Homo sapiens: one gene and its partners. The protein of the gene in region 4 purifies or fractionates together with the protein of the main gene of each other region. This does not show direct contact. Each region holds a gene or a part of one and is shown on either strand. Other genes may lie near its edges.

Region 1 (7,029 bases), on a different chromosome or scaffold from region 4:
TATCTCCAGAACAGAGGGATTAGCATTGTTGCTTTTACCCATGGTCCCACATAAACTTTTTATTTGTAGTCCCAGTAGAAAGGTGAATGTTACCATAGTTGCCATACTTGGCATTTCTTTTAGTACTGTTTTTTGCTTCTCTGTCATTTTTAAGAAAGATACATTGCCAGGTAGGTAGGAATTCAGTGAATTTGTTACAAAGCAGATTTAGTTCTTATTCTCAGCAACATTTTTAGATTTTGAAAATCTTCAATTTTAGATAGCTTTAGCCTTTATACATGTGTTTCTTATATAACGATGGTTGTGGATCGGTAGGCACTTTAAATTTTGTTCTAGGCATGTGTTTTGAGCAGCATTACATACCCAGTGTAGAAGGTGTTGTATGGAATTTCACCGAAGTGGGGAAAAATTCCAAGTAGAGGGTCAATGTGTAATGATTATTGAGTTTATATTTGTCCAAAGAATACAGATTTTAAACAAATTTTTAAAGGCCTACATAGAATTATTGGCCGTATTTGTAGCAGTTTGCTTTCTACATTGCCAGAGTTAGTAAGAACTCTATTTTCTAATTTTTATATTATGGTAAAGCCACCACTGAAAACTGACTGCCACAGATTTTTCAGACATACGTTGTTTGGCCTATATAGGTTTAGAAAACATTTGATTCAACATTGAAAAATATGGAGATTTCCACAAAACTATTCAGGCTCTTGGTTCCTCACGATAAGTGGCATGATCTGACAGTTCTGAAACTGCAGTCCTGGTTGGAACTCTGTGATAGCCACTGTCTTCAGAATGCAAGCCTCTCACAGTAGGTCCCATGCACGCACAGTAGGTCCCTCTGCCAGGCTGCCAGTACTGCTGGGGCACTGCACATTACCTGTTGTCACCCTGTGAGTTTGTATCCCTGTTGTCAAGAAAGCTGTTCATATTGTAGAAGATTTGGAAGGTGCAGGCAAGTGTGTGTGTATAAAATTACCTATAATCTGACCTTCCACTGGAAACCTCTGTTAATACTTCAACATATATTTTTCAAGTCTGTGTGTATGTATACATATATTTCTTTTCAAAACAACTTTGAGGCGTAATTGATACAGAATAAATGAAAAAAGTGTACAGTTTTATGTTTTGACATAATCACCCGTTACCATCATCATCATCAAGATAATGAATATATCCATCCTCCCAAAAGTTCCTCATACATCATGATAATCCTTTCCTCTCCCTTGATCCCTCTAACTGTGCCCCTTCACTAGGTGAGCACTGAAGTATTTTGTCATAGTTGCATTTGAATTCTGTGTATGTGTGGGCTTTTGTTTTTTTTTAGCAATTGAGATTATTTGAGATTCAGTTTTGCGGTTTCCCCTTTTTACTTAGGATAGCTTTGAAGAGTAGTGCGATCGTACTTTTTCTTATGTTTATCGTCATTTGTGTTTCTTCAATGAGTTGTCTGTTTTCTTTCCCATTATTGTACTGGTGTTTTAGTGTTTTACTTGGTTTATATGAGCTCTTCATTTGTTAATATGTTTTTCATCATATTAACAATGTTTTTCAACATATTAATATTAAAACCATGATTTTCCTCATTATAAGTATTCTCCAATTTGTATTGTTTTCCTTTATAATTTTAAGTTATTTTCTACATACAGAAGTTTTATTGTTTTTGAGTAATATTTTTACAACATTTTCCTTTGTGAGTGAGGATATACAAGTGAGTTAGGAAGTATGAATTACCTTATTCTATTTTTGATTGCCTTTCCACTCTGAAAGTTTGTATGTGGTGGAGTTTGGGGAGGGACAGTAACTACCTGTGACTATTTAGTAATGTGCATTTTCTCTAGAGCTGTTAGTTGTTAATTAACAACCATTGCTGGTAACTTGCAGAGCGTTTACCATTTTTACTGTCAAATGTCCTAGTTATGAGGATCAAAGAAACTAGTAGTTTGGGGTGGCTATGTCTGGATATCTCTTGTTGATGTTGCAGATAGGGATTTAATGTTTGAAATTGTTTTCTGTTTTCTTTTAGATCTGCTTGGCTTTGAGGAAGAGTGGCAGTACTGCCTCACTGCATAAGGGATGGGATCAGAGAACAGTGCTTTAAAGAGCTATACACTGAGAGAACCACCATTTACCTTACCCTCTGGACTTGCTGTTTATCCCGCTGTACTGCAAGATGGCAAATTTGCTTCAGTTTTTGTGTATAAGAGAGAAAATGAAGACAAGGTTAATAAAGCTGCCAAGGTACCATAATAGGTGACGACTTAATAGTTAGTACTTTTTACTATCTTGTTTTCTTTTAAAAAAATATGAAATTAGTAAAGTTCAAAGGAGGTAAGATCATAAGGACCAGTATTTTATTTATGTCCTTTCAAAACATTGCTCTTACTTCATGGGCCTATCTTCCATTTGCATGACATGGTCAGGTACCATACCTGTAGCCAAAAAACATCATAAAACTCAGTACAATGGCTTTTATCATCATATTTTATTTTTCTGGTGAGAAAGTTAGGGAGACATTTTTATGTAGCTAATATAAGATATAAGGAGCTATATAAGGAGTTAATCTCGTCTAGCAAAATGCAGTTAAGTATTGACATCATTCTGGAGGCTTCAGCTTCCTCCTTAGGGAAAAGATCCTTGTAGTTCATGCCTTATAATTGTTGCTCCAGGCAGAGGGTGCCAGTGCATTAGCATGCTGTCTGACACACTCAGGAGATCCTGGCCTCTTATCAGAAAAAATGATTTTACTGTGGAATGTAAGTCAATAAAATAACCCCAAGTGTCTTTTTGAATTAGGGAAAATGAAGGCATTAGTTGATGCTTCTTTGGATAGCTAGCACTTTGGAAATTTAGGAATTCAGATATATCATCTTCTAAAATGGAAAATGTAATTGTATTAGTAAATTAATTCTCCAGTGTTTATTCTGGTAGGCATGCTATTTTCAAGTTGAACTTGATATCTTGATTTTGTTAGAATTATAATCTCTATTACCTTGAGTCCCTTAGTTATCAACAGGTATGGAACATTGATGTCTGTTTCATAGGACTCTAAATTGTTTTTATTTTTTTAAAATGATTATAAAGGATTATATTAGTAATGGAATTTTGGTCTTCACAACAGTAATTTATTTGATGTTGTATTTTTGATCAAGCATGAAATTGTTATAAGATGGTTCCTAAAGAAAAAGATGGGTAACAGTTCTCTCGAGATGCGTGGTGGTAAAAAGTATATAGCTGGCTGTTTTCTTGCTAGGTAATTTTGCTTTTTGGTAGAACCACATTTTTGACTCTTTTTTTACATCATCTAGGTATTGTTAAGAATTTTTTATTGTGATTTTACAAAAGACAAAATGCCTTACTTCGCTTTCTTGTTCTTACAGTTAATGTCTAACATGCCTCCTGTTATTTTCATCTAATAAGATTGTGCATTTTTTTTAATAAACTATTATCGGCGAGGTACTAGAGACTTATCTTTCTTAGTATTTTTTTCTTTATAAGATTTTTTTAAAATTGTGTTACACTTTATGGTGCACGTACCAAGAAAATTGAATAACCTAGATCGAGTTTTTAAAGGAAAAAACAGCAAGACCACTCTCCATTTTTGAGGACTTCTGTGCTGAAGGAATTGCGAAGCTTGAGAGGGAAGACTTATTCCCCCTTAATATTCATAGATACCCTTTTAAGCCATGTCTGAGTCTTTGCACATAGTTCATCTTTGTCTCTTGTTAAGCCATTCTGTGGCTTTGAAAACCTCATATATGAATTTGGGAAATTTGAAATTGCAACAAAGTGATAACTTTAGATTCTCAGAATGTTTCTCATAATCTTAAAAAACTAGGTCATAGCACTTGAGAAATGTATGGCATTCGATGTGCTAGATTTTAGGAATTTGATGTCCTAGGTATCTGAAATACTAAAACAATATATTTAGCTTGCCTCACTTTCTCTAGAGTTTGGGTTGTTGGTCACACCTTTGGTAGTTTTAACGATTATTTCAAGCAGATATATAGTGTTTTCTGTTACTGGATAACAATATACACTTTCTTCACTGTTACAAGTAAAAAACAACAATCCTAGTATACACCAAGATGAAATGCAGGTATAAGCTCTGGCCACAAAATAATGTGAGAAATACTTAGTTCTATCTGACCATCTCATTTTACATTGAATTCATCAGCTATAATTAACAGTATAATTTGCTAACTGATGATGATGACTCATATATGTAAGCCTATAAACAGTGATAAATTCTAAGCCCGAATTTGGTTGCTGTAGTTTGCTGTAATCTAAGTGTTTAGTTAGGGCTTTGTGGTAAGCTTATTAAAGCTTATAAAAATGATTCTTGAGTGTCTTTATGCCAGGAATCACATTGGACTCTAAGAGTGGTATGTAGATGCTATATAAGTGCTCTATTTAGTATTGTTGGAGTCATTATGCTCTTCCCCATAATGAATTTGGGCTGTTGTGGAAGGGTTAGTCAATGTTATTTAAGAATGCACATTGTGTGGGCATAACAAGAAATGGAAGAGATGATGGCTATGCCCAAAAGAGCTTGCATTCTAATTGGAGAAAGCTGTTCTCCTCTCTCATACTGACTTTTTTTTTTGAGATGTAGTCTCACTCTGTTTCCCAGGCTAGAGTGCAGTGGTTCGATCTTGGCTCACTGCAACCTCTGCCTCCCGGGTTGAAGTGATTCTCCTGCCTCAGCATCCCACGTAGCTGGGATTACAGGCACGCGCCGACACACCCAGCTCATTTTTGAATTTTTAGTAGAGGTGGGGTTTCACCATGTTGGCCAGGATAGCCTCTACCTCTCGACCTCGTGATCCGCCTTCCTCAGCCTCTCAAAGTGCTGGGATTACAGGCATGAGCCACCGTACCTGGCCCATGGTTGACTTTTTAAGAAATTATTTTTTGCCCTTCATAATCAGAATCCAGTGCTCTTACGTGGCTTCTGGGCACTATCCACTCAGAAGAACTTCAGAAGTATCCCCCATGCCTCAGGTATGATGGACCCACCAGATGGAATGGCCAGCTACTTGCTCCCCACCACACCTTGCAGACTTCACGCTCTCCTTTTTCCTTGGATGTTAATAACCATCCAACCTGCCATTCTAAACTAATTATCTGCCAAAATCTCTAGTCTGAGCTCCAGATCTATATTTTCACTTACCTATTGAACATTTCCACCTAAAAGTTTTATCAGTACCTCAAATGCAAGCTCTACAGAATGGAATTTTTATTCCTTTCTCTTTCTGCATTTTATTGTTAGTTTATGATCTAACCTTCAGATAGTGGACATTTACAAAAAAAAAAGCATCTGCATTTTGTCTTAGATTTACATCTTCAGAGAAAAAGGAATAATATTTTTCCCTGAAGATCTTTGTTCTCTAGTTTAGGCATCTTGGTTATTTTGTTTACTTAACATATTTAACAGCGTGAAATTATGGCTTTGTCTCATCTAAAAGCCTGCAGGTGGATTTGGGCTGTAATGCTGAGTCAGTTAACTTTGCATAGTTCTCAAAGTGAAATAGCGAATCAGAGGCAGAACAACAATAAAAAGTTAAGCCTCTGAGGCTTGAATGAATTCTCTGGATAGCTGAATCATAACTGATTCCTGATAAAGGGGAATCATTTATATTTAGGGAAAGAATCTCATACTTAAGATCCCTGTTTGGGTGTAGAAAAATATCATCATTGATAAATTATATAATACTATTCATATTTAACAATAAAGGTCCTTACTCAGAACCCTCTTTCAGAGACCATCACCTAGGACAGTAAATGGGATGTAATAGGTATTCAATAACTTTGGGGAAAGTGCTTTCAAGACACTCATTCAAAAATAGTCATCTTTCTCTACTAGGGCAAGAGCCATTTATTTGCTCAACTGATGTTCATTGAAAAATATCCTAGTTACCCTTAGCAAGTATGTCTTGTTGCTATTCTTTAGAGCAGCAGAGGCTTGAATCAAAAAATGTCCTATTTGATTCTGAACTGCTAGCCTTTCCTGTGAATCTGTGTGCATAATTTATGCTTAATATTAAATGTACCAAAGGAGAGTGAGAAATAAGGTTCTTGCTAAGTTAAGTGCCTTGTTCAGAAACATGTAATGAGTCATTTCTTCTTCTCCTTCTTTATTAAACAAACAAGTACTCACTTTGCATCAAGAAAATTTCTAGGCATTGTAGAGTAAAACAATAAGCAGAAGAGAACATGAAAGATTTGGTTTGAAAATTATTTGAAATGATTCTTAAATGAAAATATGAGGGAGGCTACATAATTTTATACAGAAACCGTAGCTCAAAACACACCTGTAGGCCAGGCAAGGTGGCTCATGCCTATAAGTCCAGCACTTTGGGAGGCCGAGGTAGGTGGATCACCTGAGGTCAGGAGTTTGAGACCAGCCTGGCCAACATGGTGAAACCCCATCTCTACTAAAAACACAAAAATTAGCCAGGCATGGTGGTGGGCGCCTGTAATCCCAGCTATTCGAGAGGTTGAGGCAGACGAATCATTTGAACCTGGGAGGCGAAGGTTGCAGTGAGCTGAGAACACGCCATTGCACTCCAGCCTGGGTAACAAGAGCGACACTCTGTCTCAAAAACAAAACAAAACGAAATAAAAAAACACTTGTAAAAAATTATTCCCAGTTAACTGCACTCATTTAACCAACCTGCTAACACAATTTTTGGTTTATCTGGATCTTTGCTGTATTTATTAGTTTGTAATTGCTAGTTAAAGAAATTTTTTCTTCAATATTTTCTTAATTATTTTTTATTGAATTAACTCGAGGGTAACAACTTTCTTCCTAAGAATAAATAAATAAACCCTATTGGAGCTATTCCCAGAGTTGGCAAAATTTGAGATTATTATAAGAAAATAAAAGAAATTGGAGGCTGGGCACAGTGGCTCACACCTGTAATCCCAGCACTTTGGGAAGCCGAGGTGGGTGGATCACAAGGTCAGGAGTTCAAGACCAGCCTGGCCAACATAGTGAAACCCCATCTCTACTAAAAATACAAAAAC
Region 2 (7,029 bases), on a different chromosome or scaffold from region 4:
ACAGATGCCCACTCTCCGACAATAAAAAGAGATACGAATAAACAATCAATATATGATTAACAATTTAAGGCCGGGCGCGGTGGCTCATGCCTATAATCTCAGCACTTTGGGAGGCCAAGGCGGGCAGATCACGAGGTCAGGAGATCGAGAACATCCTGGCTAACACGGTGAAACCCCGTCTCTATTAAAAATACAAAAAAAAATTAGCCGGGCATGGTGGCGGGCGCCTGTAGTCCCAGTTACTACAGAGGCTGAGGCAGGAGAATACCATGAACCCGGAAGGCGGAGCTTGCAGTGAGCCACTGCACTCCAGCCCGGGGAACAGAGCAAGAATCCATCTCAAAAAAAAAAAAAAAAAAAAAACCGCCCATTTAAAACAACTTTTTTTTTTTTTTTGAGACGGAGTTTCACTCTTTTCACCCAGGCTGGAGTGCAATGGCGCGATCTCGGCTCACTGCCACCTCCGCCTCCAGGGTTCAAGTGATTCTCCAGCCTCAGCCTCTGGAGTAGCTGGGATTACAGGCGCTTGCCACCATGCCCAGCTAATTTTTGTATTTTTAGTAGAGATGGGGTTTCACCATGTTGTCCGGGCTGGTCTCGAACTTCTGACCTCAGGTGATCCTCCCACCTTGGCCTCCTAAAGTGCTGGGATTACAAACGTAAACCACCACGCCCGGCCTAAAACAACTTTTTTTTTTTTTTGAGGAGTCTCGCTCTCTCTCCCAGTCTGGAGTGCAGTGGCGCAATCTCGGCTCACTGCAAGCTCCACCTTCCGGGTTCACACCATTCTCCTGCCTCAGGCTCCCCAACAGCTGGGACTACAGGCGCCTGCCACCACGCCCGGCTAATTTTTTGTATTTTTAGTAGAGATGGGGTTTCACTGTGTTAGCCAGGATGGCCTCTATCTCCTGACCTCATGATCCACCCACCTCAGCCTCCCAAAGTGCTGGCATTACAGGCGTAAGCCACCGCACCTGGACTCTAAAATAAGGACTTTTTTTTTTTTTTTTTAATTTGAGACGGAGTTTCACTCTTGTTGCCCAGGCTGGAGCGCAATGGTGCAATCTCAGTTCACCTCAACCTCCACCTCCCAGGTTCAAGCGATTCTCCTGCCTCAGCCTCCCTAGTAGCTGGGATTACAGGCATGTGCCACCACGCCCGGCTAATTTTGTATTTTTAGTAGAGGCGGGGTTTCTCCATGTTGGTCAGGCTGGTCTCGAACTCCCCACCTCAGGTGATCCGCCCGCCTTGGCCTCCCAAAGTGCTGGGATTACAGGCATGAGCCACTGCACCCAGCCATAACAACTTTTTAAAAGCACTCCAATAGCATGCCTAAAGACTAAGACTACCACTAATAAGTTCAAAAAAATTGCCAATTTATTTAAGAAAAACATGAAAGAAACCAACACACACAATTCTCACCAAAAAAATACAAAATTAAAAAGCAAATATGAAAAATAATTTCCTGCATGCAAACAGGCTTTTACAAAACAATAAAAGAAATACTGGGAAATGCTCAAAAAATATTAAAAAGCAATTAATAAAAAGAAGTCAGAGCTGGGCACAGTAACTAACGCCTGTAATCCCAGCACTGAGAGGTGGAGGTTGGAGGATCGCTTAACCCCAGGAGTTCGAGACTAGCCTGGGCAACATAGTGATACCTCATCTCTAAAAAAGTAAATAAACTAATTCACATTTTCAATTTCCATATCACTATTCCAACATCAACTACAATCAAAAAATTGCAAATTAAACTGTAATATGCCCATTTTTACCTATATGTTGGCATTTATTTTTAATTAACACCCACTGTGAACAAAGATACTTGCAAACAAGCACAAACCTAACCCTGATGAATAAATGGGTAAAACCTTTCTGAATGGATCTAGCTTTTTCTTGAAAATGTACATGTCAGGCCAGGTGCAGTGCCTCACACCTGTAATCCCAGCACTTTGGGAGGCCAAGGTGGGTGGATCACCTGAGGTCAGGAGTTCAAGACCAGCCTGACCAACATAGTGAAACCCCCATCTCTACTAAAAATACAAAATTAGCTGGGCGTGGTGGCACATGCCTGTAATCCCAGCTACTTGGGAGGCAGAGGCACGAGAATCAGTTGAACTCAGAAGGTAGAGTGAGCCGAGACTGCTCTACTGCACTCCAGCCTGGGCGACAGAGTAAGACTCTGTCTCAAAGAAAAAATAAATAAATTTTTTTAGTAGAGACGGGGTTTCACTATGTTGGTCAGGCTGGTCTCGAACTCCTGACTTTGTCATCCACCCGCCTTAGCCTCCCAAAGTGCTGGGATTACAGTCGTGAGCCACCATGCTCGGCCAATTTTTTTTTTTTAATTAGCCAGGCATGGTGGCACACACCTGTAAGTCCCAGCTACTCAGGAGACTAAGGCAGGAGGTTCACTTGAGCCCAGAAGGTGGAGGCTGCATATTTGAGACCCTATCTCAAAAATAAGTACATAAATAAAAAATAAAAATTAAAGTGCTGATAAAAAGAAAACAGCAATTTATGAAGATGCTATTAATAGCCATCTTGAAAAAATTCTAAGAACAGGGGTGTTTTCCCGTCAAAACTCCTCTCGGATTTGTCATTAAAAAAAATCAAAGCCGGGCGCGGTGGCTCACGCCAGTAATCCCAGCACTTTGGGAAGCCGAGGCAGGTGGATCACGAGGTCAGGAGATTGAGACCATCCTGGCTAACACGGTGAAACCCCGTCTCTACTAAAAAAAATACAAAAAATTAGCCGGGCGAGGTGGCGGGCGCCTGTAGTCCCAGGTACTCGGGAGGCTCAGGCAGAAGAATGGCGTGAACCCCGGGGGGCGGAGCCTGCAGTGAGCCGAGATCCCGCCACTGCACTCCAACCTGGGCGACAGCGAGACTCCGTCAAAAAAAAAAAAAAAAAAAAAGAAAGAAAATCAAGACCGGGCGGTCGCTCACACCTGTAATCCCAGCACTTTGGGGGCCGAGGTGGGTGGATCACCTGAGGTCAGGAGTTTGAAACCAGCCTGGTCTGTCTCTACTAAAAATACAAAAATTAGCCGGGCACGGTGGCGGGCACCTGTAATCTCAGCTGCTCGGGAGGCTAAGGCAAGAGAATCACTTGAACCTGGGAGGCGGAGGTTACAGTGAGCCAAGATCGCGCCACTGCGCTCCAGCCTGGGAGACAGAGTGAGACTCTGTCCCAAAAAAAAAAAAAAAAAAAAAAAAAAAAAAAAAATCAACCCAGCCAGCACAGTGGCTCATGCCTGTAATCCCAGCACTTTGGGAGCCCAAGGCGGGCGGATCACTTGTGGTCAGAAGTTTGAGACCAGCCTGACCAACGTGGTAAGACCCGTCTCTACTAAAAAATACAAAAATTAGGCGTGGTAGCGGGTGCCTGTAGTCCCAGCTACTTGGGAGGCTGGGGCAGAAGAATCTCTTGAACCCAGAGGTGGAGGTTGCAGTGAGCCAAGACTGTGCCACTGCACTCCAGCCTGAGTGACAGAGCAAGACTCGATCTCAAAACGAAACAAAACAAAACAAAACAAAAAAATCAACCCCTGGCCCAGCAGGGTAGTGCAAGCCTGTAGACCTAGCTACATAGTAAGCTGAAATGGCGGGGGTGGGGGGTGCACCCCAGAAGTTCAAGGTTGCAGCGAGCTATGATTGAGCCACTGCACTCCAGCCTGTGCAACAAGGCTAGCCCCTATCTCGGGGGGGAAAAAAATAAGGAAAAAAATACAAAAAGATAAAAAAGATTAGGAAATGGCAAAAATCAACTCCCCCATTCTGATAAAGGTGAAATTAAACCAACTTTTGGCATCCCACAAATTCATTCACTGAAATTTTTAAAAAGCTCTCCATTTACCATGCCAACTTTCCTCCTTTGAGGAGTTTCTTTATAGAAGGCTTTCAAATTTCTAAATGGCATTTATAGGGTTTATCTCTTTAATTAAAAAAAAAAAAAAGAAAGAAAGAAATGGCTGGGTGTGGTGGCTGATGCCTGTAATCCCAACACTTGGGAGGCAGAGATGGAAGGATCACTTGAGTCCAGAAGTTTGAGACTAACCTGGACAACACAGGGAGACCACATCTCCACAAAAAATTTTAAAAACTAGCCAGGTGTGGTAGCACACTCCTGTAGTCTTAGTTACTGAAGAGGCTGATTCAGGAAGATTACTTGAGCCAGGGAGGTCAAAACCGCGGTGATCACGCCACTGCACTCCAGCCTTGGCAACAGGGCAAGACCTCGTTTCAAAAAACATAGAAACAAAACAAAATTTTTAAAAAAATTACTGTAAGTTTGCTAGGGTAGATATTAACCACTGGGAAGGAAAAAAAAAAATGTTACAGAAAAACATTACAGACCCAGGCAGGGTGCGGTGGCTCATGTCTGTAATCTCAGCACTTTGGGAGGCCAAGGTGGGTGGATCACCTGAGGTCAGGAGTTCGAGACCAGCCTGGCCAACATGGTGAAACCCTGTCTCTATTAAAAATACAAAAATTAGCTGGACGTGGTGGCACGCGTCTGTAGTCCCAGATACTCAGGGGCTGAGGCACAAGAATCGCTTGAACCCACGAGGTGGAGATTGCAGTGAGCCAAGATCACGCCACTGTACTCCAGCCTGGGTGACAGAGGGAGGCTCTGTCTCAAAATAAATAAATACATAAAAATAAAACATCATAGACCTAGTATTAAAATCCAAGCCTCCATTCTAAATCCATTTCAAAAATCATAGGAAGTTTGCAGAACTCAAGTTAAAATGTTAAAGATGGATGTAGTTCTAATCACTGTCCATGACTCTATTCTAAAGGATTAAATGAAGGGAAAAATAAGGTTTTTATGAGATTCACTGTTAGTATGGTTTCATGTTAATTGTTTTTTTTTTTTTTTTTGGCAATCCTGTGCATAACAGACCCAAGTTAGATTTTGCAGATTTACTGTTTGAAAAGCCAATGCACTATACAGTCAAGTCAGCCCTCCATATCTATGGGTTCTACATCCATGAATTCAACCAACCAGGAATAGAAAAATTATTTAACTGCATCTGTACTGAACATGTACAATTTTTTCTTGTCATTATTCCCCAAGCATACAGTATAACAATGATTTACATTGTATTAGGTATTATAGTGTAGAGATTCAAGTGTACGGGAGGATGCACATAGGTTATATGCAAATACTATACCATGTTCCAGGGACTGGAACATCCTTGAATTCTGTCATCAGAGGGAGGTTCTGGAACTAATTTCCCATGGATACCAAGGGACAACTGTACTTGGAAACTGCCATAACCTTAAACTATGAAATTAACTCATATGAAATCCTGCAATTGAAATAAACAATTCCAGAAGAACTACTTTGCCACAGGATTGTCTAAAATGCACATTTATTAAAATGAAGATAGCTAAGAAGCATGAATGATCACATCTTATGTTAATAACTGAACAAACACCTTCCAAGTTGCCTATTTTGAAAATTACTTTTTAGTTCAAAGTCTCATCTTAAATAACCACCCATTATGGTAATAACCACCTCCGACAGAATATTTGGCAGTGGGTTAAGCACTTTTAACACATTTGATACTTACAATAACCCTATCATGAACATATTATCAGCATTTTACAGCTAAAATTTAAAACTTGCCTACCACCCTTGCCCAAACTAAATCTCTGTCCACAGGAAAAAATTATAACTTTTTATTGCAAATATACACATTATATATAATAGCATAATAACACAAGTAGTCACACTGGTACATTCTTACATATATGTTACTGTGCCTTAAGACAGTTTTACAAACTTTAAAGTACTACAAAACACTTGCACCCTATCATCTGTTTCCCACGACAGCCTTGTTACGGATTATCACTACCTTATATGAGGGCTCCAGGCTCTGAGAGCTTAAGTGAAATCACTCATTTGATTCCTCATTCTTTTCCCACTACATTATCCTCCCTATGATTAAAGAAGCATTGCCGCCACAATCAGAGCATCTTTGCAATAAAAGATAAAATGTTACTAGAGAACCTAGATAAGTATTCTTCACCAGTTACATACTTCTCCAACAAGTTATTAGAGTTACTGGCCAGCAGGATATCCAGCTAGCCTCTAAGTGGTTGTTTGGGGACCAATCATAAAGTTGTATGAACAGGAGTTGTATGAATACTTTTTATTAAGCTAGTAGCTTAGCAAGGGAATCCCCTACATTCTACTTGTACTGGTCCGAAGACCAAATCCAAGGTCAATCAAAAGTACATATTATCTCCTTGGGAAAACAGAGGATGTTAGTCTTTTATGACTTAAAAGTTGTTTCTAGTAACTATCATCCGACCATACACCACACAGCCATTTGTCTCAGAGTAGGTAGTGAAGGTGGCTACTTAAATACACACATTTTTAAAAAACTGTATCCAAGTTTAGCAATATGTGTATATACCCAAGCACACAGAGACACGTTCCATAACTTGGAAAATCATCTGTAAAAGTTATTTTGGCTTTGCACTTCTGAATACTTCATGCTTCTCCATGACCATAACAAACAGAATTGTTCTACTTCCTTTACTAATTGTTCTACTTCTTTCTATAATATCTACCAAGTATTATCCTATTGCCATCATATTTTCAGGTTGGTACTTTCTTCCTGCTATCCTTTTTATGGGGGAGACAGAGTTTCGCTCTTGTTGCCCAGGCTGGAGTGCAATGGCATGATCTCGGCTCACGGCAACCTCCACCTCCCAGGTTCAAGCGATTCTCCTGCCTCAGCCTCCTAAATAGCTGGGATTACAGCCATGCGCCACCACACCCAGCTAATTTTGCATTTTTAGTAGAGAGGGGGTTTCTCCATGTTGGTCAGGCTGGTCTCGAACTCCTGACCTCAGGTGATCCACCTGCCTCGGCCTCCGAAAAGTGCTGGGATTACAGGCGTGAGCCACCGCACTCAGCCTGCTATCCATTTTTAAAGCCATAGAGAAAGCCCTCGAGTGTTGTGTATCATGTGCTGTGTGGAGGACTAACGGATAGGAAGAAAACTACTA
Region 3 (6,350 bases), on a different chromosome or scaffold from region 4:
TTCTGGCAGTTTTTTGTAAGACTCTGTGGTATTGTTGGAGGAATCTTTTCAACAACAGGTTAACAACCATTTCCTTTTTGTCTAATTTCTGAAAGTGTTGCTTATACTTAAGTTGCTTCTTCTCAAAGGGGCAAGAAGTATACAGATTTTCATGTTTCGGTGTTTAAATAGCTTTTGCTTTAATTACAAAACTCCAAAATTATATTGACTAACCAGTAAACATAACTAATTTCATTGTATTCAATGATGTAAGGTAGATTATATAATGGTGAGTTGGAAAGATCCTGGGTGTTAACATCAGATTGAAGTAGAATTGAATGTAAGTTCTGTCATTTACTTGGTGGTAGCTTGGAATAGATCACCTACCTTTTCTGAGGTTTTCTAATCAGTAAAAATAGCAATAATAATACCTAATTTGCAAGTGTGCTATAGGATTAAATATGAAAATGCCTAGAAGGCATTTAAGACATTTTTAACTGTACAGTATGTAAAATCATATGTTATAGTACTTTGAATTATGCAATACATGAAACTAGATTTGTAATCAGTAACATGTTTATGATTTTTGTCCTGAGATCCTGGAATTCGCTAAGATTATTTGTCGAATTGTAATGATGAAAATTGGGAGTTAAGTACAATAGAGAAAAAGGAAACAATTCTATTTTCATCTTCAGTCCTTATTCAGTATTAGATGGAGCTGGGTAGTTTATTATACTTAGAATCATATTTTTAAATGAATGAATAGCTTTTCTTTCGAAATTCTTTGTTAGTGCTTCATTTCAATCTATTTAAATTTGTGTTGTTGACATCATTTATTTTCCAAAATTGTATTGGTGTGGGAAAACCTTGAAAAGATTGTGTTTAGGCCCGGTGCAGTGGCTCATGCCTATAATCCCAACACTTTGGGAGGCCAAGGCTGGCGGATCAACTTGAGGCCAGAAGTTCCAGATCAGCCTGGCCAACATGGCTAAACCCCGTCTCTACTGAAAATATAAAAAATTAGCCGGGCATGGTGGTACATGCCTGTAATCCCAGCTAATTGGGAGGCTGAAGCACAAGAATTGCTTGAGCTGGGAGGTGGAGGTTGCAGTGAGCCAAGATTGCACCACTGCACTCCAGCCTGGGCAACAGAGTGAGACGTCTCAAAAAAAAAAAGATTGTGCTGAGATCGTGAATTATGTGGCCTTGTGACTTTGAAAAGAAATCCATTTGTTTTAAAATCTTTCTTGATTATTTTTAACCATGGAAGTGAATAATGCAAACTGCTTTGTTTTCTTCCGTAATCTATTCCATTATAGTTATTTATTCTTAAATAACAGTTTAGGAAATAATTAAAAGCATAAACTTATTGTTTATTACAGGCATGTTACATGGAATTGGAAAATTTATAGTTGAAATAATTTGCTGTCGTTTCAGACTTGGATCCTATAAACCTGTCAATTCTGTAAGTGGTGTAGTATACATGGTGCTGATCTCTAAATCTTAGAATCATTGTTAAGTCTATGAGCCAGTCATGGTGGCTCACACCTGTAATCCCAAGACTTTGGGAGGCTAAGGCGGGAGGATCGCTTGAGCCCAGGAGTTTGAGACCAGTCAAGGCAACATAGTGAGAGCCCCATTTCTACAAAAGATAGAAAAAATTAGCTAGGCAAGGTGGTGCAAGCCTGTAGTCCCAGCTACTTGGGAGGGCACAGTGGGAGGATCACTTGAGCCCAGGAAGTTGAGGTTGTAGTGAGCTATGATCGTACGTACCACTGCACTCCAGCCTGGGTGACAGAGCAGACCCTGCCTCAAAAAAGATAGAGATAGAGAGATAGAGAAATAGGGGGAGAGAGAGAGAGAAATAGTAGCTTTTGGTTACTAGAAAGGATTGCCCAAAATAAAACCTTGTGTTTAGAGGAAAGAGTATAAGGAATAAAACTAATTCTTTGGTCTTTTTTTCCCTCCTTTTCTCCTTAGGTTCCTTTTGAGGATGGCCACACAGACAACCACTTACCTCTTTTAGAAAATAATACACATTAACACCTCCCGATTGAAGGAGAAAAACTTTTTGCCTGAGACATAAAACCTTTTTTTAATAATAAAATATTGTGCAATATATTCAAAGAAAAGAAAACACAAATAAGCAGAAAACATACTTATTTTAAAAAAGAAAAAAAAGGATAAAAAAACCCAAACTGAAATTCTATATACGTTGTGTCTGTTACAAATGTCGTAGAAGAAATCATGCAGCTAAACGATGAAGAAGCCCAACTGGAGTGTTGCTTTGAAGATGACGCCTTCTTATATTTTCATAGCAAATGGGTGGTATCAAAATCAGACATTGCTTCTTGCTGATAAAAAGCCTGAAGGAAATAAGTGAAACTACATCTATGGGAAAAAAAAAAACATTGAGAAGTGCAAATGTTCGCATCCTTTTGTTTTTAAAAGATATGATGTCAGAATAAAATGTGGAAAACATACGGAAAACTAGTCTAGACTTTAAAGAATTGTGATCAGGTCACATTGTTAATAAAAAAAAAAAACGGGCTAGTCCCTATGTTATAGCCATATTAATGTTAAGCCATATTGACAAGACCAGTTATCCAATAATTTGGTCTTAAAAAGTAACTACTTTTCTTTGAACTCTGGTTATTGACTTATCTAACTGTTGAAGATAGAGTCTTAGAAGACTAAGGTAAATTCTCACAGGGGCAGATATGTAGGTGTTATGTAACTAGGGTGTCATTCACAAATGGTATAGTAGAATCTTATACACGGAAAAGAAAGCACATTTTTTTAAAAAAGATGCCAAGTTTTTTAATCTAATCATTATATTATTGGTGTATTTTGGGCAACATAGGGTGAGTTATAAAAAGATCCGCTACTGATAGTGAAAATTACCGGTTTGTAAAACATTAAGAGAAAAAATAGGATATTTTATACATGTGGTGAGTGGAGAACAGGGTAACTTTAAATGAAAGTGTAAGGCAAATTGTAAGCACCACAAGATATATCAGATTTGAGAGGTGCCATGTTAAACATTGTCCATTAAACTATAAAACTGTATTATGAAGTATTTGCATTCAGGGTGTCCTGAATATGATTGATTCTGTATTAGATTGTGTTCTAACTTTCTTACTATTTAAGGATTGGTTCTAAATCTTCACATTATAAAAGATTAAAAACAGTGAGAGGGAGCTATCACACAGGTACTATTAAAAGCTGTATTTGGAATATGTGTACCAATATCAGTTTTCCTTTTGTAGTACTGAATGGCAGTAGAAGAATCAGCAGCCAATCCTCAAAGTTTAAATCATTTAAGGAAATGGGGAAACAAAATTCCAGGTAAATAACAAGACTGAAAAACTAGATTTAAAATAGTGGTTTTAGAAAACAGGATATCACAAGTAACAGTTTTTCAAATGGATTTTTTTAAAGATAAATTTATGAAAACAGGATAAACAATATAATGGAGAGAAGGAGAAATAGTGATGGGTCTGTTTTGCAGTAAAGTTTATGCAGAATGACGTTTTGCAGAAAATAACAGAAGCATCACTTTAAAAAATATATCATTAAGAGCCATGACGTTAACTGATGAAAATAAGTGATATAACATACTTTGAAAGATTTTTAAACAGAAAATTCTGAATCGTGAATGAGCCTTCTCTAGGTTTTAATTTTTTTTCTTCAAATTATTTCCAACAAAGTTTGGCTATAAACTAACACCATCTATCCACAGGAATTTTAATAGGAAAGGATTAGAATTGTAGACTGATTGTTGGTCCTTTAAGTATGCTTGGAAGAAAATTCAATCGAGTTTCAAGGCTTTTTCTAAATGGGAGGGAGAACAATATTGATTTAGGATTATTTTCTTTCATTTAGGATTAGAACAGTTAAGTGCCTTTAAAAAGGACTTTAAAAATTATTTTGATACTTATATATGATTTTTAATTGTTTTCGTATTTTCCAAATACCATATTAAAATTTTAATGAAATTTATCTCCTATGAAAGGAATTTCTTTAAAGCAAAATTCTGCTTTGCCTTTGATTTCCATTTTAAAAGTTAAAGGCTTCCATCTGAAACTCCTCAAATAGAGTCAGATTTTTGGCAATGGAAGTATTAAAATTCCGATCAGCCCTTTGGACGATGAAGTTTACCTGCATATTAGGATTTGTTAGGAGTTTTTGGCCTCACCAAGTGATTCTTTTCTATTGCAGAGAGCACTTTACTCACCTACCTGTTATGCAACTTTCCCTATGCCTGGAGGTGCCTCCAGCCAGGATACCCTACTTTGTTACCCAATTCTCCTTTTTGTTTTACAAGAGTATTCATAATATCTATATGTTTATATTCCAGACTACATATTTAAAAATGAGATCTCAAATTATATGAAATGGATTTTTAAATACTGTGTTTGCATACATTGACCTATAAAGAAGATTAAATATTTAGGTGAATAATTCCCTGCTGCAGTATTTGTACACTTCAGACTACCTCTTAGGAAAAGCTTAACTTAGTATTGCAAAATTCCCTTTCTCTTTTTTTTTTTAAGAGATGGGGTCTCGCACTGTTGCCCAGGCTGAAGTGCAGTGGCATGATTGTAACTCACTGCATCCTCGAACTCCTGGGTTCAAGCAATCCTCCTGCTTCCATCTGCTGAGTAGGTAGGACTACAGCCATGCACCAACAAACCTGGCTAATTCTTTTTCATTTATATAGTTAGTATCTTGCTGTGTTGTTCAAGCTGGACTCCAACTCCCGGACTCAAGTAATCCTCCCACCTTAGTCTCCTGCATTGCTGGAATTATAGGCACGAGCCACTGCACCTGGCACCCAAATTACTTCTAGTTCTCAAGTTAGATGATTAATATCACACTTTTCTCATGTATGTTTTATGATAGCATTGAATTTTTATAATTAAAAATTTACTAATGCAAACAAGATTTACAGTCTTTAATACAATCTTAATTTTGGAATTCATGAAGGAATGACTAAGTTCTAATTTTTTTTTTTTTTTTTTTGAAACTGAGTCTCGCTCTGTCGCCTAGGCTGGAGTGCAGTGGTGCAATCTCAGCTCACTGCAACCTCCGTCTCCCGGGTTCAAGTGATTCTCCTGCCTCAGCCTGTTGAGTAGCTGGGACTACAGGTGCGTACCACCAAGCCCAGCTAATTTTTTTATATTTTTAGTAGAGACGGGGTTTCACTGTGTTAGCCAGGATGGTCTCAATCTCCTGACCTCATGATCCGCCCACCTTGGCCTCCCAAAGTGTTGGGATTACAGGCATGAGCCACTGCCCCTGGACAGATCTAATTTTTTAATAGTGTAAGAGAGATACACTGTGCATTCCATCTATGTCCTGAGTTAGTAATTCAAGTACCAAAAAGTAATTTAATATGAAACTCCTTGAAAATTCAGAGCTTACACTTGAATTCAAAATGCCTATTTTTGATTGTTTAAAAGTTACTTAAACCTGAGCTTTAGGACCTTTAAAATCTCAGCATGCCTTTTAAGCTAGTACTTTTCCTGTTTTGAGCTCTAGCAAACCTTCAGCAAGCCAAGGTGGTAGCCCTTTTTCAACACAATCAAAATAGAGAGGTCACCAGTTGTTTACTACCTTATGGTAAAATGCCCGGATCAAGATCCATGTATCCCCCCCATATTGTGATGATGCAATCAAAGCATAGTTTTTTTCTACTTTCTGAAATATTACTGATGAAATCACTTTACATTTAAGAGGAGAAAACAGACTGCCTTGGATTTTTTTTTTGTCTTGAGAGAAAAAACAAAATATTTAGTATTGCAAGCATAAACATTTGGACTCAATAAATGACAAATTATGAAACTTTTTTTGTCTTTTTAATACTAGGAGAAAATTAAAATCATGTACCCCCAAATAAGCCTCAGTTCCCATATTTAAACTTTTTTCTCATAGGAAAGCTACAGGAATTTTAAGATATCACATGGTTACATTTGCTTTTCTTCCAGATGGAGCTAAATTGCTATATGATACAGGGTTTATTTTATATTTCTCATATTAAAGATGAAAAAGTGAAAATTGAGTAGTTGACTCAAAATTATATGTATATATATATATATGTTAACAGTTGAATACAAACAAGATTACAAGCAGTGAAACATTCAAATAGTTTTGGCAACTCCAAATATTTTGTGTTTCACAAAAGGAGTTAGGTTAACTTTTCCAAATATAACTCATTTTATACTATTTTAATAAGGAGAAACTTAAGGATGAGAAGGCATGAGGAAAAGTATACATTAGTGAAAGCTATATACTAAAGCAGACCTTCAACAACAGCTCATAACTAATAAATGCTTTGTATTTTGTTTTCAAGCAGTTATGTAAATCAA
Region 4 (7,029 bases):
AGAAGAAAATCTGTCCAGTGGGGGCATGAAAAGAAATTAAAAATAAAGAATAGGAAGGTTGCTCACTGAATTGTAAACTTTATATAAATGGGTGAATTTTATGGCATGTGAATTATATCTCAACAAAGCTTTTTGTTTTTTAGCTAAACATCAACATACAGTGAAAGTTAAAAAAAAAATCACTTAAGGCAAGGCACAGTGGCTCTGTAATCCCAGCACTTTCAGAGACTGAGGCAGGAGGATAGCTTGAGCCCAGGAGTTCGTGACCAGCCTGGACAACATAGCAAGACCCCGTCTCAATTAAAAAAATACTTAAAAAATTATAGGGGTTAAGAACCATGGCCGAGCACGGTGGCTCACGCCTGTAATCCCAGCACTTTTGGGAGGCCGAGGCGGGCAGATGATGAGGTCAAGAGATCGAGACAATCCTGGCCTACATGGTGAAATCCCATCTCTACTAAAAATACAAAAATTAGCTGGGCATGATGGCACACACCTGTAGTCCCACCTACTCGGGAGGCTGAGGCAGGAGAATCGCTTGAACCCGGGAGGCGGAGGTTGCAGTGAGCTGAGATTGCGCCACTGCATTCCAGCCTGGTGACAGAGCGAGATTCCATCTCAAAAAAAAAAACAAAACAAAAAACAAAGAACTGTTCAACTAGATGACATGTAAGGTCCTGCCTACAATATTATGAAAAACAGCTTGTGCAGCAAGAACACTGAGTGCACAAATCCCCACTGGAGGCTCAGGTCCCTTTGCTGGGACATTTATTCAAGGGTAAGCTAAGTTTCCAAGTTCAGCCCTGGCTCAGACCTACCTGCCCGGACCTCCTCATGCTCCAAGACCACTCGGTTATAGATGAAGCGGATGTACTTTGAGGGATTGGTGGTCTTGGGCCCCTCCTGGCCCAGGAGATGTAGAATACGGGTGGCCAGCACTGTGAACTCGCAGTCCTCGATGAACTCGCACAGATGTGACAGCCCTGTCTCCTTGCTCTCTGAGTTCTCTTCAATGATGCTGATGATGCAGTCCACGATAGCGCGCTTATACTCAAAGCCACCCTGCAGAGAGAAGCTGAGCTAAGCAAGGAGCCTGCTCTCTCCAGAAAAGAGTTGAAGACCTGAGCTGGACCAAGGACAGTTGTCCAAACACAGAACTTGGAGACAGGGCACTTGGTTCTCTGGGCCTCTATCACTCTTTCCTGTCAAACAAAAGGCTGGTCAGGTGCAGTGGCTCACACCTATAATCCCAGCACTTTGAGAGGCTGAGGTGGGTGGACCACTTGAGCTCAGGAATTCGAAATCAGCCTGGGCATCATGGAGAGACCCCATCACTACAAAAAATAGAAAAATTAGTTGGGCATGGTGGTGCATGCCTATAATTCCAGCTGCTTGGGGGTCTGAGGTGAGACGATTGCTTGATCCCAGGAGGTTGAGGCTGCAGTGAGCCGTGATCACACCACCACACTCCAGCCTGGGTGACAGATGGAGGCCGGGCGCAGTGGCTCACGTCTGTAATCCCAGCACTTTGGGAGGCCAAGGTGGGTGGATCACCTGAGGTCAAGAGTTTGAGACCAGCCTGACCAACATGGTAAAACCCTGTCTCTACTAAATATAAAAAATTAGCCGGGCGTGGTGGGGGGCACCTGTAGTCCTAGGTACTCGGGAGGCTGAGGCAGGAGAATCACTTGAACCCAGGAGGTGGAGGTTGCAGTGAGCCAAGACCTCACCACTGCACTCCAGCCTGGGCAGCAGAACGAGACTCCTACTCAACAGAAAAAAAAAAAAACTGCTATCATGCATACAGTGTCTCCAAAGTGCTAGGCCTGGCCAGGCATGATGGCTCACACCTGTAATCCCAGAACTTGGGTGGCTAAGGTGGGAAGATCACTTATAGCCAGGAGTTTGAGACCAGCCTGGGCAACCCAGCAAGACCCCATCTCTACTTAAAAAAAACAAACACAATCACCAAAGTGCTGGGCCCATTAGCTGACAACTCACTAAACATTAGTGCCCTTCTACAACAACATTCTTGGGAAACGCAAAGACACTCAAGGCAATGGCTCCTCTACTGCCTAGTCCATGGGCCACTCTGGGGCTGGGTGAAAGGGGTACCATGTATCTGAGGAACAAATCTACTCCATGAACATCTGCTATTGCTCCTAAGAATTAACCCATTTTGTTGAGACGTCCAAGAAAGGTGGCATAAGTGAATCAGTAATTCACGTCGGGAACAGAAATAGAACCAATGTCGTATTATTAGCACCGGTTTCACAAGAAACCACTCCTAGAGCTCCTGGAATGGTCTAGAATATTTCTGCACTAGAGTCCACCAGAAAAGAACATGCATTTTCCCATCTTCTGCACAAGCATCACCTCAGGACATCCAGTTTTTAAAGTCAGGCTGGTGAGTCATAGTTATTACTGTAATTACTAGCAATTGGTACGTGTTTACATGTCCACAAGGAGTTTAAAGGGTTGCAGGCACCATGAAAACCAGTTGGTTAACAGGCTAACATAAGCACACGCACAAAGCTGAGCATGGAGCCAGTGGTCAGGTCACTCCCTGCACCAGGAGACCTGGCATCCCCCGAATGCCCCTGACTCTTACCTCTTCCCGCAGCATGGTGAACAGGAAGTTCATAAGGACGGCGTGTTTGCGAGGATATTTCTGACACAGGGCACTGATGGCCTGGACAACCACCACCTAAATGAAATAGACGTGCATGAGCAGCAGGCCCTGCCACCAAGATGGGGTGACTCAGTTCCCTGAGTGCCCACTGAGTCCTTCCTTAGGTAAGGCCAGGCCTTGGGCATGACACAAGGGCAAGGAGACCAGAGGAACTCAACTCCACGCTTGAAGCTTGAAGGGCACAATCCCTGAGCCCACCCAAGGCAGTGCCAACAGCCCCAGTGTCAGACTCTCAGACTCTGGGTTCCCCAAACTCTGCTCTTCTACTCAGGCTTCTTAAGTCTCCGAGTCCCCTCCACCCAACCTGTCCTGCTTCTCTCCCTACCACTGGCTCCCACTGATGGTTCCCACCCATCATCTCCTCTGGCTCCTTTTTGGTTAAGCCTGTCTCTGGGGTATTCTGTCCTTGGCCGCTTCTCTTCTCACAGTCTCTTCAGCAATCTTATCCCCTCCCATGGCTTTAACCGCCTCTTATATGCCACTGACTCCCAATATTTATCTCCTGTCTGAGCTTAAGACCTGCCTTTTCCAACTGCCTGTCAGACAACTCCACCTGGCGCCCACAGCACTTCAAACTCCACATGTCTGCAACCACAAACATCTCCATCTCCTTCCCCCTCCCTCATCCAATACCCCATCTTTTCCTCCCCTGCAAACTAGTCAAGAGCACCACTGTCAGCTCAAAGTAGAAAATGGCATCATCTCTGTTGACATCCACCCCTCAACCCTCACACCAACCCTGCCAACAGGCATTATCCCTCAAAAAGCTCTTGCACTGTCCCACCTCTCCTACTCCCGCCGGTTCAGGCACCATCCTCTCCTTCTGAATTACTCCAACAGTCTCTTTACCCAGTCACCCCTCCACTCTGCTCCAGAAGGACTCTTTTTTTTTTTTTTTTTTTTTGAGACGGAGTCTCGCTCTGTCTGGAGTGCAGTGGCACGATCTCGGCTTACTGCAACCTCCACCTCCAGGCCAGGTCAAGCGACTCTCCTACCTCAGCCTCCGGAGTGGCTGGGACTACAGGTGTGAGCCACTACACCAGCTAATTTTTTAATTTTTTTAGTAGAGACAGGGTTTCACCATGTTGGCCAGGCTGATCTCAAACTGCTGATCTCAAGTGATCTGCCGACCTCAGCCTCCCAAGTGCTGTGATTACAGGCATAAGCCACCGCGCCCAGCCAATTTTTTTTTTTTTCAGACAAGGTCTCACTCTGTCACCCAGGCTGGAGTGCAGTGGCATGATCATGGCTCACTGCAGCCTCGAACTCCTGGGTTCAAGTGATCCTCACACCTCAGCCTCCAGAGTAGCTGGGACTACAGGTGCGCATCACCACACATGGCTAATTTTTAAAAAAATTTTCTGTAGGCCGAGTGCGGTGGCTCACGTCTGTAATCCCAGCACTTTGGGAGGCCAAGGCGGGTTGATCATGAGGTCAGGAGATCGAGACCATCCTGGCTAACATGGTGAAACACCGTCTCTACTAAAAAATACAAAAAATTAGCTGGGCATGGTGGCGGGTGCCTCTAGTCTCAGCTACTCAGGAGGCTGAGGCAGAAGAATGGCGTGAACCCAGGAGGCGGAGCTTGCAGTGAGCTGAGGTCACACCACTGCACTCCAGCCTGAGCAACAGAGCGAGACTCCAACTCAAAAAAAAAAAAAAAAATTTGTAGAGATGAGGTCTTGCTACATTGCCCAGACTGGTCTCAAAATTCAGGCCTCAAGTGATCCTCCCTCCTTGGCCTCCCAAAGCACTGAGACTACAAGCATGAGCCACCGTGCCCAGACCCAGAAGGATCTAATATGCAAATCTCACTGTGTCATTTCAGCCTGCAAAGCATTCTTGTAACCCACAGGCAGAGTAGACTGCTGCCTACTTTGCATAATCCACACTATAGAATTTACCACAATATATTATTCATATTATTGTTTGCTCTGATTAAAACTCTCCGGTGACATACTTCATTGTTCTATCAATTAACAATTGTGAAATAACAGAATTACAGAAATTGAGAACAAATTAATGGCTGCCAGGGGTTAGGGAATAGAGAGGTAGGAATGGGCCTGACTATGAAGAGGTAACAAGAGTCTTGTGGAGATGGATAGTTGAGTGTCTTCACTGTGGTGGCAATTTTGAAAGTCTCCACATGACATCTTGCATAGAACTTCACATATATACACACAGGAGTTGCCTGTGTAGCTGGTGAAATCTGAATGAGCTCTATGGGTCATGCCAGTGTCACTTTCCTGGTTGACATTGTCCTGTGCTAGTGTAGGATGCTGGCACTGTAGGAGAGGGTTGATGGAGGGGTGCATAGGACTTCTCAGTATATTTCTTTGTAACTTCCTATGAATTATTTCAAAATATAAGCTCAAAAAATATTCACATCCTTCCTCCTGCCCCAAAAGAACACCTTTCCAATGTCTTCCTTGCAATTAAAACTCTTTACCTGACCATGGGCCTTACATGATTGAGCCCTGTCTATTCTGACTTTGTCACCTGCACTGGCCCCACAGCTCTTCCACCCACTGGCCTTCTCTCTCCTTGACTTGCTCCTGCCTTTCCTCCTGGTTCTTTGCACTGATTCAGGTTTGAGCTCAAATGTCACCCTCCAGAAGGGCCTTCCCAGACTGTGCTCTTCCTAGGATCATCCCTGCTGTATTTCTACACTCTTGACTGCAGTACCCATGCCTGAGATGATCTCGTCTACTCCTTTCTTTACCTGTTTACTGTTCCTCTCCCATCCCTAGAAAGGAAGCTCCAGGAGGGCAGTCACCTGCTTTGTTCACTGCTATGTTCCCCTTTTGTCACTCTACATAGCAGACAGCAAGTGCTCAAGAAATACTTGGACAACAAATCAATGAACCCTTAACTGGCCTGGAAACTACTGTTCTTTCAGTACAAGGGGACGATATGGATGGAGGCCTGGAGGCAGGACTACGCACATTTCTCGGAAGGCCAAGTCTCTGCAGAGCAAACTGCTGGCCTCCTCTGAGTCCTCAAGGCTGACCAGCCCCTCAGGTCAGTCCTGGCAGGAAGGCTGTGGCCACAGAGAGCAGGGACAGAGCTCCTTCCTCTGGGGGCCGTGGGTGTCCTGGGGGTAGCAGGTACCTTGAATTCATCCGAGATTTCTGACATGAAGGAGGAGATCTGCTTCATGAGGCGGTCGATGCTGCTCTCGCTGCCCGTCTTAAGGAGGGTGGTGATGGCCAGCGTGGCAATGCTGCGGTTTGAATCTGTGACCAGGTTCTCCAGATCCAGATTACAAGCTGTCACAGCTGACGGATGCTTCATGGCAACCTGTTTTGGGAGGACAGTGACAGAGAGGGCAGGAACCCAATGCTGTCACTACATTTGATGGTTTGGCCCAGTCAGAAGTCCTTTGGATGAGATCATCTCACCATCTAGAAGAAACTAACTGTGACCAGGGCTATTATCCTTCCCAGCCAGGTCAGAGGCTAGGACACACCTCCAGTTGGATCAGACAGCTTCCTCCAACCCCCAAGCTGGACTCTTACCTTATTGAGGGTACGAACAGCAGCATAGCGGAGAGCAGCCTTGGGTGAGCTGCAGAAAAGCTGGAGCACTGTGGGGAGATGGATGCCACATGTCAGGTTGCCTTCACTGCTGGGCAGCTGGGAAAACCGGGGGCTACTGTTCTGACTCAAACCCTCTGCTCAGCTCATTTCCCTGCTGACACCCCCATCCCAACCCAAGACACAGAGCTCCCCTCACCCTGCGCACCTGAGCCATGGACAGAGGCCATAATGTCTGTGAGCACCCAGGGGTTCCAGTGAGGGCTGTTATTCACTGGGCATCTGCTGTGTGCCAGGTGCTGTGCTATACAGTGGACATGCCTCACTTCTATAGCTTGCAGCCACCACTAGCCCACTTTACAGATAAGGAGACTGAGGCACAAAGGGGAAAGCAAACAAACTTTAGGTTGGCAGCCAGTAAGTGGCAGAACCAAGATTAAATTCCAAGACTGCCTGCACCTGCAGCCTAAGCCCTTAACCTCTGTGAAGTAATATTCCACTCCTCTCTCCTACTGTGTCTACAGGATCCAACAGAACTTCCCCCTTGGCACCAAGTGCTGAAGAACAAAGTCCTCTCTTAAACAAATGGTTTATTTCCTTTAACTAGATGAGAGCCATTCGGGTACCATATCCCTCCCTTGCCCTGGCTGCCCGGAAGCTCAGAGCTAAATTTGGCACTCAATCATAGGAGCGAAGATGACTACTGTTTTCTGGAATATCTATGTTCCTTTCTTCATAACTTGGCTTTTATTCTCTAATACTCAAAAAAAATTTTTCTTAATGCTTATTTTGAAGACCCTA

What was found.
Region 1: the proteins of COPG1 (region 4) and SCYL3 purify together in Homo sapiens (affinity purification with mass spectrometry; 2 studies listed by BioGRID and IntAct, with this or other methods). This does not show direct contact.
Region 2: the proteins of COPG1 (region 4) and ATL2 purify together in Homo sapiens (affinity purification with mass spectrometry; 3 studies listed by BioGRID and IntAct, with this or other methods). This does not show direct contact.
Region 3: the proteins of COPG1 (region 4) and ERGIC2 purify together in Homo sapiens (affinity purification with mass spectrometry; 2 studies listed by BioGRID and IntAct, with this or other methods). This does not show direct contact.

Annotation. Positions count from the first base shown.
Region 1 is NC_000001.11:169,883,888-169,890,916, reverse strand, and holds part of SCYL3 (protein-associating with the carboxyl-terminal domain of ezrin), read left to right. Parts: intron 1-2,026; 5' UTR 2,027-2,076; coding exon 2,077-2,241; exon of another isoform or gene 2,242-2,267; intron 2,268-7,029. UniProt on the Homo sapiens protein: May play a role in regulating cell adhesion/migration complexes in migrating cells.
Region 2 is NC_000002.12:38,367,254-38,374,282, forward strand, and holds part of ATL2 (atlastin-2), read right to left. Parts: intron 1-7,029. UniProt on the Homo sapiens protein: Atlastin-2 (ATL2) is a membrane-anchored GTPase that mediates the GTP-dependent fusion of endoplasmic reticulum (ER) membranes, maintaining the continuous ER network. It facilitates the formation of three-way junctions where ER tubules intersect.
Region 3 is NC_000012.12:29,336,828-29,343,177, reverse strand, and holds the end of ERGIC2 (endoplasmic reticulum-Golgi intermediate compartment protein 2), read left to right. Parts: coding exon 1-58; intron 59-1,361; coding exon 1,362-1,444; intron 1,445-1,959; coding exon 1,960-2,022; 3' UTR 2,023-5,826; downstream 5,827-6,350. UniProt on the Homo sapiens protein: Possible role in transport between endoplasmic reticulum and Golgi.
Region 4 is NC_000003.12:129,259,582-129,266,610, reverse strand, and holds part of COPG1 (coatomer subunit gamma-1), read right to left. Parts: intron 6,279-7,029; coding exon 6,211-6,278; intron 5,993-6,210; coding exon 5,804-5,992; intron 2,708-5,803; coding exon 2,612-2,707; intron 1,063-2,611; coding exon 819-1,062; intron 1-818. UniProt on the Homo sapiens protein: The coatomer is a cytosolic protein complex that binds to dilysine motifs and reversibly associates with Golgi non-clathrin-coated vesicles, which further mediate biosynthetic protein transport from the ER, via the Golgi up to the trans Golgi network.